Linked DNA regions of Homo sapiens. The protein of the gene in region 3 purifies or fractionates together with the protein of the main gene of each other region. This does not show direct contact. Each region holds a gene or a part of one and is shown on either strand. Other genes may lie near its edges.

What was found.
Region 1: the proteins of STRADA (region 3) and AMY1A purify together in Homo sapiens (affinity purification with mass spectrometry, with the first as the bait; one large-scale study listed by BioGRID). This does not show direct contact.
Region 2: the proteins of STRADA (region 3) and GC purify together in Homo sapiens (affinity purification with mass spectrometry; one large-scale study listed by BioGRID and IntAct). This does not show direct contact.

The regions. Positions count from the first base shown.
Region 1 is NC_000001.11:103,661,753-103,665,056, reverse strand, and holds the end of AMY1A (alpha-amylase 1A precursor), read right to left. Parts: intron 2,401-3,304; coding exon 2,282-2,400; intron 2,172-2,281; coding exon 2,046-2,171; intron 727-2,045; coding exon 537-726; 3' UTR 503-536; downstream 1-502. UniProt on the Homo sapiens protein: Calcium-binding enzyme that initiates starch digestion in the oral cavity.
Region 2 is NC_000004.12:71,777,430-71,781,085, forward strand, and holds part of GC (vitamin D-binding protein isoform 1 precursor), read right to left. Parts: intron 1-3,656. UniProt on the Homo sapiens protein: Involved in vitamin D transport and storage, scavenging of extracellular G-actin, enhancement of the chemotactic activity of C5 alpha for neutrophils in inflammation and macrophage activation.
Region 3 is NC_000017.11:63,710,648-63,714,303, forward strand, and holds part of STRADA (STE20-related kinase adapter protein alpha), read right to left. Parts: intron 3,462-3,656; coding exon 3,359-3,461; intron 2,881-3,358; coding exon 2,759-2,880; intron 190-2,758; coding exon 81-189; intron 1-80. UniProt on the Homo sapiens protein: Pseudokinase which, in complex with CAB39/MO25 (CAB39/MO25alpha or CAB39L/MO25beta), binds to and activates STK11/LKB1.

The DNA.
Region 1 (3,304 bases), on a different chromosome or scaffold from region 3:
AAGATTGACCATAAAAATATGTAAATAAGACAACTAAAAATAAATTTACATGCAAGGTGTGTAGGAACACTTAAATGTGTTTGTGGTAAAAGATTATAAAAAGGCATAAAAATGTAAATGTTGCCTATGGAAAAAGGATTCTTTTGAAACCTATGTAAGGGTAAAATTTGGCTTTCCTTCCCTTGTACAGATTTTTCATGTAATAGAGAAGAATAATGAAATATTTGGTTTGCCTTGTTGGTAGAATGCCAAGGAGAGAAAAGAGTAGACAGGAGACAAACTGTTTGGAAAGCTAAGTCTTACCTCTTAATGAGTAAAGATTGTTGCCTAGTTTTAAAATTTTTGAGTCATCCTTTTGCCAAAATAAATAACTTATGTGTAACCTGGAATTGTATTTCATACTATCAAGTGTCTTAAACCTCTTTTTACTAATTAGAGCTTTTATTTAAAATTAATGATATGTAACTATTACTGTATATGTAAGAAAAGAAACACACTTAGCTATTGCTTTGCGGATTTGCATTTAATTTTAAATTTTACAATTTAGATTCAGCATGAATTGCAATAAATGGATCTTCAGCAGAGTTACTAATAGAAAAATGAGCTTTGCCATCATCAGAAACGTAGATTTTAATGCCTGTGCAGTTGCCATTAATTTTATCTCCAGAAATGACATCACAGTATGTGCCAGCAGGAAGACCAGTTTGCAAAGTTAAAGAAAATGTCCTGTAAAATAAAATTTCAGATTTAACTTCAAAACAATGAAATCAAGAATACAGACTAACACAAATAAACAGCATAACTTTATGTTTTAGAACCCTAAGCAGTGAAGTCTCATTAAGAAGAAAACCCATATGCCTCCCTAGTAGGTGTAAACAGCTTTCTAGGACCAAAAGTAACCTTACAGAAAACCTACCAATTTCCTTTTCAGTAGTGAAAATATAACCGAAAAATCAAAGTTGAAGAATATCACCGAAGATTGGCGGGAGCGGTCACATTTTGATAAAGTGCTACCTTGGTAAAATCAAATTTTTTCTCAACTGAACTTAATGCCAATTACTTTAAAAATTTAAAGGGTATTATTTTTTTAACCTTCTTTTATTCTACATGAGGTCAAAAAGAATTTAGGGTGTACATAAAAACAGTCTAGCATTTGTATGAGGAAGTGATAGTTTGAAATATAAAGCTTTTTCACAAAAGATTTTTTTGGTATTTTCATCCACAAAAGAAGGAAACTAAGGAAATAGACACGCATTTTTTTGGCAGGAAAGAGATCAACTTGACTTATATATTTTTGTATTTATTTATTTTTCATAAGTGAAGTATAATTTATACTAGAGTGAGCTAAGTATGAGTGTCAGTTGGCCTTGGACAGAGACAATTCAACTGTTTGCAAGGAGGTCTTCTCAGCTACAGTTTCGGGAATCATTTATACTACAGCCAAAGGATACAAAAATCACAGATGAAAGGCCAATAATGAGAAGTTTCAGAACTAAAACTCAAGTCTCCTGAAGCAAATCATTAACCACAAGATACATATTATTTATCCATATGCTTTAAAAATGTTATTTGTCACAAGGAGACAGAGAAGTGAAGAAAGTATACCAAAAAACTAGGTAGAGCTGTCATTGAGAAAAAGAGAAATAAAGATATTTTAGTACTGAGGCAGCATTTTTCCATGATTAAAAGAGCAGGACTATAAGAAACGTTCTTTTAATGATTTCACAATCCTTCTATTAATTACTTTGTGTATTTTGTGGCATGTGTAGGTAAGCATATGAATGTGCATTCTATATATGCATAAGATATTGCAAGGGTGCACAGAAAGGATTCTGCTTACAACAGAAAGCACTTATGAAAACAGGAGAACGAAGGAGTAACAGCCATCATCCTTTTGCTTCTACCCAATTTTGATCTCTATTGTCTTCTCGCTCCACTGACTACATGATTTTTCAGATATGATAAATGTCAATGAACAGAAAAAAAAAAGAATAAACCAAGAACATACTGGTACAAAATATTATTTTTAATTGATATTTACTTACCAGTCATCATTGTTGAAAACAATGAATCCTCTGTTTCCTCTCCCAAAAGCCACTTGGTTGCTCCCATTATCATACCAGTTTGTAAAAGGCTGGCCATCCACTACATTGCGGAAATTAACCATGTTCCTAAAAACACAATACCATATAAAACGTTGATATTCTTAAACTTCAACTGTTTTAAATAAAGTGCTACGGAAATTTACTATTAGAGGACATGTCTAAATACATATTCTCACCTTATTTGGCGCCATCGATGTTCACAGACCCAGTCATTGCCACAAGTAGTGTCTGGATTAATAGTAACTTCTTTAGTTACTCCATTATCATTTGGTGGCCCAACCCAATCATTAACATCCTTAATTACAGGAGGAAAAGCCAAATTTTAGCATATATATATTTATCTCTTCCTTCTCCTTTAAACCAAACCCAACCTATCCTGTTACTTGTGTCTCTGCATTCAGTGACTTTATCTAGAATCCAATGCCTTCATTGATTTTTATAGCCCTTTACTGGGTCTTCATCATCTCTCTATCCTCTGGTTCTCTTTTGCCATATTTCAAACAAAGGTAGCAAATTGTTATCCTCTCCTTTTCATTCCAAGGCACTGCAAAGACTTCTTTGCTCTGTCACCCAGGCTGGAGTACAGTGGCATGATCGTAGCTCACTGCAGCCTTGATCTCCGAGGCTCAAGCGAACCTCCCATCTCAGCCTCCCAAGTAGCTAAGACTGTTGGTGTGCACCACCGCACCCAGCTAATTTTTTTTTTTTTTTAATTTTCAGTAGAGGCAAGGTCTTGCTAGCTTGCCCAGATAGGTCTTGAACTCCTCAGGTCAGCTGACCTTCTCAGCTGGCCGCACACAGTGCTGGGATTATAGGTGTGAGCCACTGCACCTGGCCTGCAAGGGCTTCTTAACATCACTGTAAGCCATGCAATGGCATTGAAATGGGAAGGGCATTAGTACTAGAAACACCAGGATTAAAACATAGGCTCTATTACTAGTAGCTGAGAAAATTTAATCAATATAAATAATTTCTCTGTGTCTCAGTTTCCTCATTTGTAAAATGAGAATAATGAGTTCTTTTGCTATAAAAATTAAGTAATATATGTGAAAATGCCTTGAACATGACATATGCTAAATAAATATTGGAGGCCGTCATGCTTCTTTTTAGATAAATGTACAAAATACTACATCTGAACATTTTTTTTTTATAAATTGACCATATTTTTAGTATTATGCTTTTCTGATTGGCACTTTAAG
Region 2 (3,656 bases), on a different chromosome or scaffold from region 3:
AAAATGGAATGCCAATGTTTTCTATAGGATATATACTAGATATTACATTCCAATTGCCACCAGGATATAATTCCTTAGATATATTTGCTAAGAAAACTTAAAAGGAACACTCACTTCAATGTTAGCCTAGTCAACAATCCAACCATGTATTTTGTTATTTATATTTTTTAAAATCTAGTATGCAATTGTCAAATAAAAGTATTTTCATTTTAAAACCAATTATTACCTAACATTTGCAGCAGAACTGATAATATCAAAATAACAAATTTACTTTCGTGTAGTAAAATTTGAAGACTGAAATGGTTATTCTAAGACTGTGCTCTTGCTATTGTATTTTTTAATAGATAAAAAAATCACAGTTATTTCCATATAAAAATATTTTCACTCATAAATGGGAGTCGAACAGTGAGAACACATGGACACAGGGAGGGGAACATCACACACTGGGGCCTGTCGGGGGTTGAGGGCTAGGGGAGGAATAGCATTAGGAGAAACACCTACTGTAGATGGTGGGTTGATGGGTGCAGCAAACCACCATGGAACATGTATACCTATGTAACAAACCTGCAGGTTCTGCACATGTATTCCAGAACTTAAAGTTTATATATATATAAAAAAAAACAAAATAAAACCCACATAGGAATTCAGCTGCATCAGCAGATATGAATGTGAAAGACATGTATAACTACATAACACTCCTTGTATATTCCAATAAATCTTTCTAAATCAGCTTTCAAAAAAAAGTTATGTAAGTTTCACTTCTCTAAGATGAAAAACACAATTTGTTAAATGTAAACATATTTAAACAATTCATATGTGATTTCATTTATAGAGAATAAAAATGACTGGTAACTAATTATTTTGCCTATTTTAAATGTAAAGATACAATTATTTGTTAATATTATTTTCTTTAGGTAGTGTTAAACCTCAAGTTACTATTTTACCATGACACCCAGGTTAGCAAACCCAAATGCTCATAGGATCTAGGAACCACACAACTTACATTTGATCCAAGGGAAGAAAGCATTAAATGCTCAGTGGTGAAAACTGAGGGTTTAGTCCAAAAGGAGGAGTGACAATTCAGCTCCAGTTCATCATTGCCATGTGAAAATTTGGCCCTTATTACCACACATTCCTGTGTTTCCAGAGAAGCTAGAAATCTAGATTTTTTTGTGGAATCTCCAGGTTTTAAAATGTTGACAAGTGAAATGAGACTTTAAAGACAGACTTAAAGAAACTTTGTTGGCCCAAACCATGAGGGCCAAAGAAAACATCCATATGAGGATGTATTTTATCATGATTTAAGATAGAGGCTTTGGATACAGACCACCTGGATTTGAATTCCTGCTACCCTAGGTGATAGTGAGACCGCTGGCAAGTTGCTTATCCTCTCTGTTCTTCCTCAGTTTTCTCATTTGTAAAATGAAGATTGTATCCTCAGGAAACAGAATATTGCTGTCAGTTATTATTATTATTATTATTATTATTATTATTGGCTAAATCCAGTTCATGATCATTTTTATACATATGAGTGTATATATTTATGTACATACCTATTTATACACACACACAAAAACACACACAGACACATCAGCTATCTCCTGGGAGCATGGCATCATATGAAAGAAAACTCTAAAGCCACCAATCTTTAAGGAACCTGAGTCTGATGGTAGACATACATATACAAAAACCCAATTTTGTAATATTACACAATAATTTTTTGAACACCTACTAAATGCCAAGTAATGTTCTATTACTGGGAATTACAGGAAATAACAAAAGTTCTTAATTTCACAAGGCTTGCATTCTATATTTGTTACAATAAGCAAATGAACAACCAGTGATAAGGTAAGGTACTAGGTGCTAAGAAGAAAAAATAAATCCAAATAAGGGGATAGAAGATAATGGACTGGTAGGTGTTATTTGTGGTAGGTTGGCTAGGGAAGCCCCCTCTATAAATGGACTTGGAGTAGATGCCTGAAGAAGGTGAGGAAGGGAGCTATGAGAATATCTGGACAATCAATGTTCTAGGAATAGAGAAGAACTAATGCAAAGCCCTGGGGTGCAAAGGACTTAGAGTGTGAGATAATGTGGAGGCCAGTGTGGTCAGATCAGAATGAATGAGAAAAATAGGAGAGAGAGAGAAGAAGCAATGGGTAGAATGAAGAAGTTAGGTGACCAAAAATACTGGGGAAGGGCATCATCAATTCCTTTTAGAGGTTTCTTCATTTTCTCCTGTCCTAAATAGATTAAGCTGGTGGTGTTTTACAGAGTGTGCACACTTCTCCTTATATTACATATTGGTGACTGCATATGTGGCATTGCACCTGATATCAGTAAGATGAAACATTGCTATTGATTTTCAGGGAGGTTAACATTGCTCTCAGTGATGAGAGCTGTATGACTTCAGCCCTTGCGTAGGGCTGTTTTGACAGGGAAGGAAGAGAAGGAAAAGTGTAGCTCACCCACCAACCCAAAGGGAACTTTCTTCTTGCAGTTTTATATCATGTTTAATAAAAAAAAATGCTGTGAATGAAATGCTTAAAGCAAAAAGGAAAATGTTCATAATAAAAACCTCTTTTTGCCAACAGCTCTTATCAACTGCAGTGGTTTATTTCCTGTTGGCATGATTACCTTAATAATTTTGTAGCTGTGTCACGACCCTCTGATCTTTGACAAACCTGACAAAAACAAGAAATGGAGAAAGGATTCCCTATTTAATAAATGGTGCTGGGAAAACTGGCTAGCCATATGTAGAAAGCTGAAACTGGATCTCTTCCTTACACCTTATACAAAAATTAATTCAAGATGGATTAAAGGCTTAAATGTTAGACCTAAAACCATAAAAACCCTAGAAGAAAACCTAGGCAATACCATTCAGGACATAGGTGTGGACAAGGACTTCATGTCTAAAACACCAAAAGCAAAGGCAACAAAAGCCAAAATTGACAAATGGGATCTAATTAAACTAAAAAGCTTCTGCACAGCAAAAGAAACTACCATCAGAGTGAACAGCAACCTACAGAATGGGAGAAACTTTTTGCAATGTACCCATCTGACAAAGGGCTAATATCCAGCATCTACAAAGAACTTAAACAAATTTATAAGAAAAAAACAAACAACCCCATCAAAAAGTGGGCAAAGGATATGAACAGACACTTCTCAAAAGAAGACATTTATGCAGCCAAAAAACACATGAAAAAAATGCTCATCATCACTGGTCATCAGAGGAATGCAAATCAAAACCACAATGAGATACCATCTCACACCAGTTAGAATGGCAATCATTAAAAAGTCAGGAAACAACAGGTGCTGGAGAGGATGTGGAGACACAGGAACACTTCTACACTGTTGGTGGGACTGTAAACTAGTTCAACCATTGCGGAAGACAGTGTGACTATTCCTCAAGGATCTAGAACTGGAAATACCATTTGACTCAGCCATCTTATTACTGGGTATATACCCAAAGGATTTTAAATCATGCTGCTATAAAGACACATGCACATGTATGTTTATTGTGGCACTATTCACAATAGCAAAGACTTGGAACCAACCCAAATGTCCATCAATGATAGACCGGATTTAAAAAATGTGGCACATATAGACCATGGAATACTATGCAGCCATAAAAAAGGATGAGTTCATGTCTTTTGCAG
Region 3 (3,656 bases):
GTAATGGAGGAGGAAAACACAGGCAATCTGACAACAGAGTCCCAATAACCCCTTTCTACCAAGAACCCTTTCCCACTCACCGTATGCCATGAATGATGTGACAACCCACAGCTCATTGTCTGCAATAAAAGTGGCTCGATATGGCACGATATTGGGATGGTTGAAGAGTTTGGAGACATGCAGCTCGCCCTGGAAGCAATGATGAAGCTGAAGTCAGAACCAAATGGCACTGAAGGATGCCGCTCAACACAAAGATGGCAGCATGGACAATAGGGGGACCTGGCACTTTCTGGGTGTTCTCAGAGTCATGGGAACAGCCTAAGCAGGTGCCTGCCAACATAGGAAAAACAAGGCCCTGCTGCCTCTGCAGGGACCCAGCACTGCTTTGCCTCTGCCAGATAGGGAAACTGCCAACAACAAAGGGTGCCAGCACACCGACTCAGAGATGATGAAGGCAAACTGTTGACTGAAGACTTCTGAAGTTATAAGCTTATCTCAATTTCAAGGGCCAACGTATAGAATTCCTCTTTAAGATAAGAAAACAAAAAATATTTTGTTGTTGTTATTTGTAGAGACAAGGTCTCACTGTGTTGCCCAGGCTGGTCTCAAACTCCTGGGCTCAAGCAGTCCTTCTGCCTCAGCCTCCCAAAGTGCTAGGATTATAGGCGTGAGCCACCAAGCCACTGCACCTGGCCAAAAATGTTTTCTTTTTTATTTTTTTGAGACAGGGTCTTGCTCTGTCACCCAGGCTGGAGTGCAGTGGTGTGATCCCGTCTCACTGCAGCCTGAACTTCCCAGGCTCAAGTCATCCTCCCACCTCAGCCTCGCTGGTAGCTGCGACCACAGGTGGACGTCAACATACCTAGCTAATTTTTTATATTTTTTTGTAGAGACAGGGTTTTGCCATGTTGCCTAGGCCTGCTTTGGCCTCCCAAAGTGCTGGGATTGCAGGCGTGAGCCACTGTGCCCAGCCCAAAACTATGTTTCTATTATAAAAGAAAACATGGCCGGGCATGGTGGCTCACGCCTGTAATCCCAGCACTTTGGGAGGCGAGGCAGGCAGATCACTTGAGCCCAAGAGTTGGAGACCAGCCTGGGCAACATGGCGAAACCCCATCTATATGAAACATACAAAAAATTAGTTGAGCATGGTGGTGCATGCCTTTAGTCCCAGCTACTCGGGAAGCTTAAGTGGTAGAATCACCTGTGCCTGAGCAGTTGAGGCTGTGGTGAGCTGTGATTGCACCACCGCACTCCAGCCTGAGCAACAGAGCCAGACCTTGTCTCAAATAAAGAAAAAAAAAAGAAAAAGAAAACACAGTTGATGGAGGAGAAGGCCAGCTGAGACTGGCTTCTGCTCCATCCTCAGACCCACCAAACTACTATGAACAGATGAACAGGTCCTAGAGCACCATCAGGTAACCACCAATTCAGAAAAAGTTGTAAATGAAGGAGGGGAGGGGCTGCAACTAACTCTACTGAAGGAAAACTGCCCCAGGCCCTGACTCTAAGCTGGCATCAGGAAAGGAGAGTCTAACTCCCAAGCACTTACTAGACTCACAGTCTCTCTCCGTTTTGTTTTGTTTTATTTTTTGAGCCAGGGACTCAGTCTGTCACCCAGGCTGGAGTTTGGTAGTGCAATCTCAAACTCCCGGGCTCAAGCAATCTCCCTGCCTTGCCCTCCCAAAGTGTTGGGATTACAGGCATGAGCTACCATGCCTGCCCCCTCTCTCAGTTTAACGAGAGAGTGGCTACTTGCTTCTCGAATAGAAAGGAATGTCAGGACTGGGCATAGTGGCTCACACCTGTAATCCTAGCATTTTGGGAGACTGAGGTGAGTTGATTGCTCGAGCTCAGGAGTTTGAGACCAGCCTGGGCAAGATGGTGAAACTCTGTCTCTACAAAAAATACAAAAATTAGTCAGGTGTGGTGTGCCTATAGTCCCAGCTACTTGGGGGGCTGAGGCAGGAGAATCATTTGAGCCCAGGAGGTTAAGGCTGCAGTAAGCCGTGGTCCTGCCACTGTACTCCAGCCAGGGCAATAAAATGAGACCCTGTCTCGAAAAAAAAGAGGCCAGATGCGGTGGCTCACATTTGTAATCACAGCACTTTGGGAGACCAAGGCAGGCAGATCACCTGAAGTCAGGAGTTTGAGACCAGCCTGGCCAACATGAAGAAACCCCGTCTTTTCTAAAAATACAAAAGTTAGCCGGGCATGGTGGTGTGCGCCTATAGTCCCAGCTACTCGGGAGGCTAAGGCAGGAGAATCGCTTGAACCTGGGAGGTGGGGGTTGCAGTGAGCCGAGATCGTGCCACTGCACTCCAGCCTGGGTGACAGAGTGAGAATCCGTCTCAAAAAAAAAAAAAAAGAAAAGAAAAAGAAAGGAACATCAGGCAAACAGGAGGCTGAGAGCCAGAAGATGGCCACTGGTGGCAGGGCAGGCACCTTGTGTCTGGAACAAGATGGCCTGGGTTTGAATCCTGCCTCTGCCATGAGCAAGTTACTTAGCTTCTTTCTAAATAATAAATAAATGAATAAAAAAGCCAGAAGGGAGTGTTTGGAGAAGAAAAGGGAAATATAAATTAGGCTGAGCAGCATTTCAGCCCAATCCTTAGTGCCAAATGGCCAGGATTCTCCACTGAAAGCTTCCATAACTTCCGAACGTTTAGTCTCCCTTCATTTCTTTGTAATTCCTTGTAATTCCTATCAGAGCCAAGAGCCCACCCTCCCTCCATGTGACACACTCATGGTTTATTACCTGCAAGAATGTTACCATCTCATTGGAACAAGCTTCTAGGTTAATCCTCCGTACAGTCACGTACTCTCCTGTTGGTTTGTACCTTGCTAGATTCACAGTCATCAGGTCCTCAAATCCTTTGCCTAAAAGAAAAAGGGAATGCCATACGCAAGGACAAGAACAACAAAAGGTTTTAAGAAAATTTTCCTTTAAAAAAGGGACTTGATTTCAAAAGAAACTTAATGTTAAATTTTTCACTACTGTTACTTTTTTTTTTTTCCTTTTCCCAGCAGAATTTAACTGTTATGTTCATGGCTCACATTTCTTGATTTTTCTCTCATCAGTTCCTTCTCAGCCAACCTTTCTGACTCACTATGGCCAGGACACCGGAAACATGGCAGCCACAAAGGAAAGATGGCAAAAGAGCTTCTTTCCTGGAAGTTTGATCTCTTCCCATACTTGGCATAAAAAAACAGAGAAGACCCACAGAAGCAAGTCTGTGCCCATGAATCCTCCTAACTAGTGGATGGCCTCTGCTGTACACACATCTGGGGCTGCTGAGAAAGCTGCAGCAGCCCCTGGAGCAGAAAGCAGGAGAGTAAGGACGGCCCCTGCACATACCTATCACAGTGAGCAGCTCGTAACACCCTCCCTCTGGCAGAAAGCTACTCATGACCTCCTGTTTAGAGAAGGATGCTATTGACTCTGAGCTCGCATCATTGGTCTAAAAAAGAAAAAGAAAAATAGGTTAGTAGAGAAAACTGGGGGTGGGATGGGAGTGGGGTGAAGGTGGTAATTCAGACCCACGAGGAGACTGGCATCTAAACACACACACAAATCCCGACTCAGTGCCAGCACTATTTGAAGAGAAACAAAACACTACATTCAGGGTAGTAATCAGCACTAATATCAGAGCAAG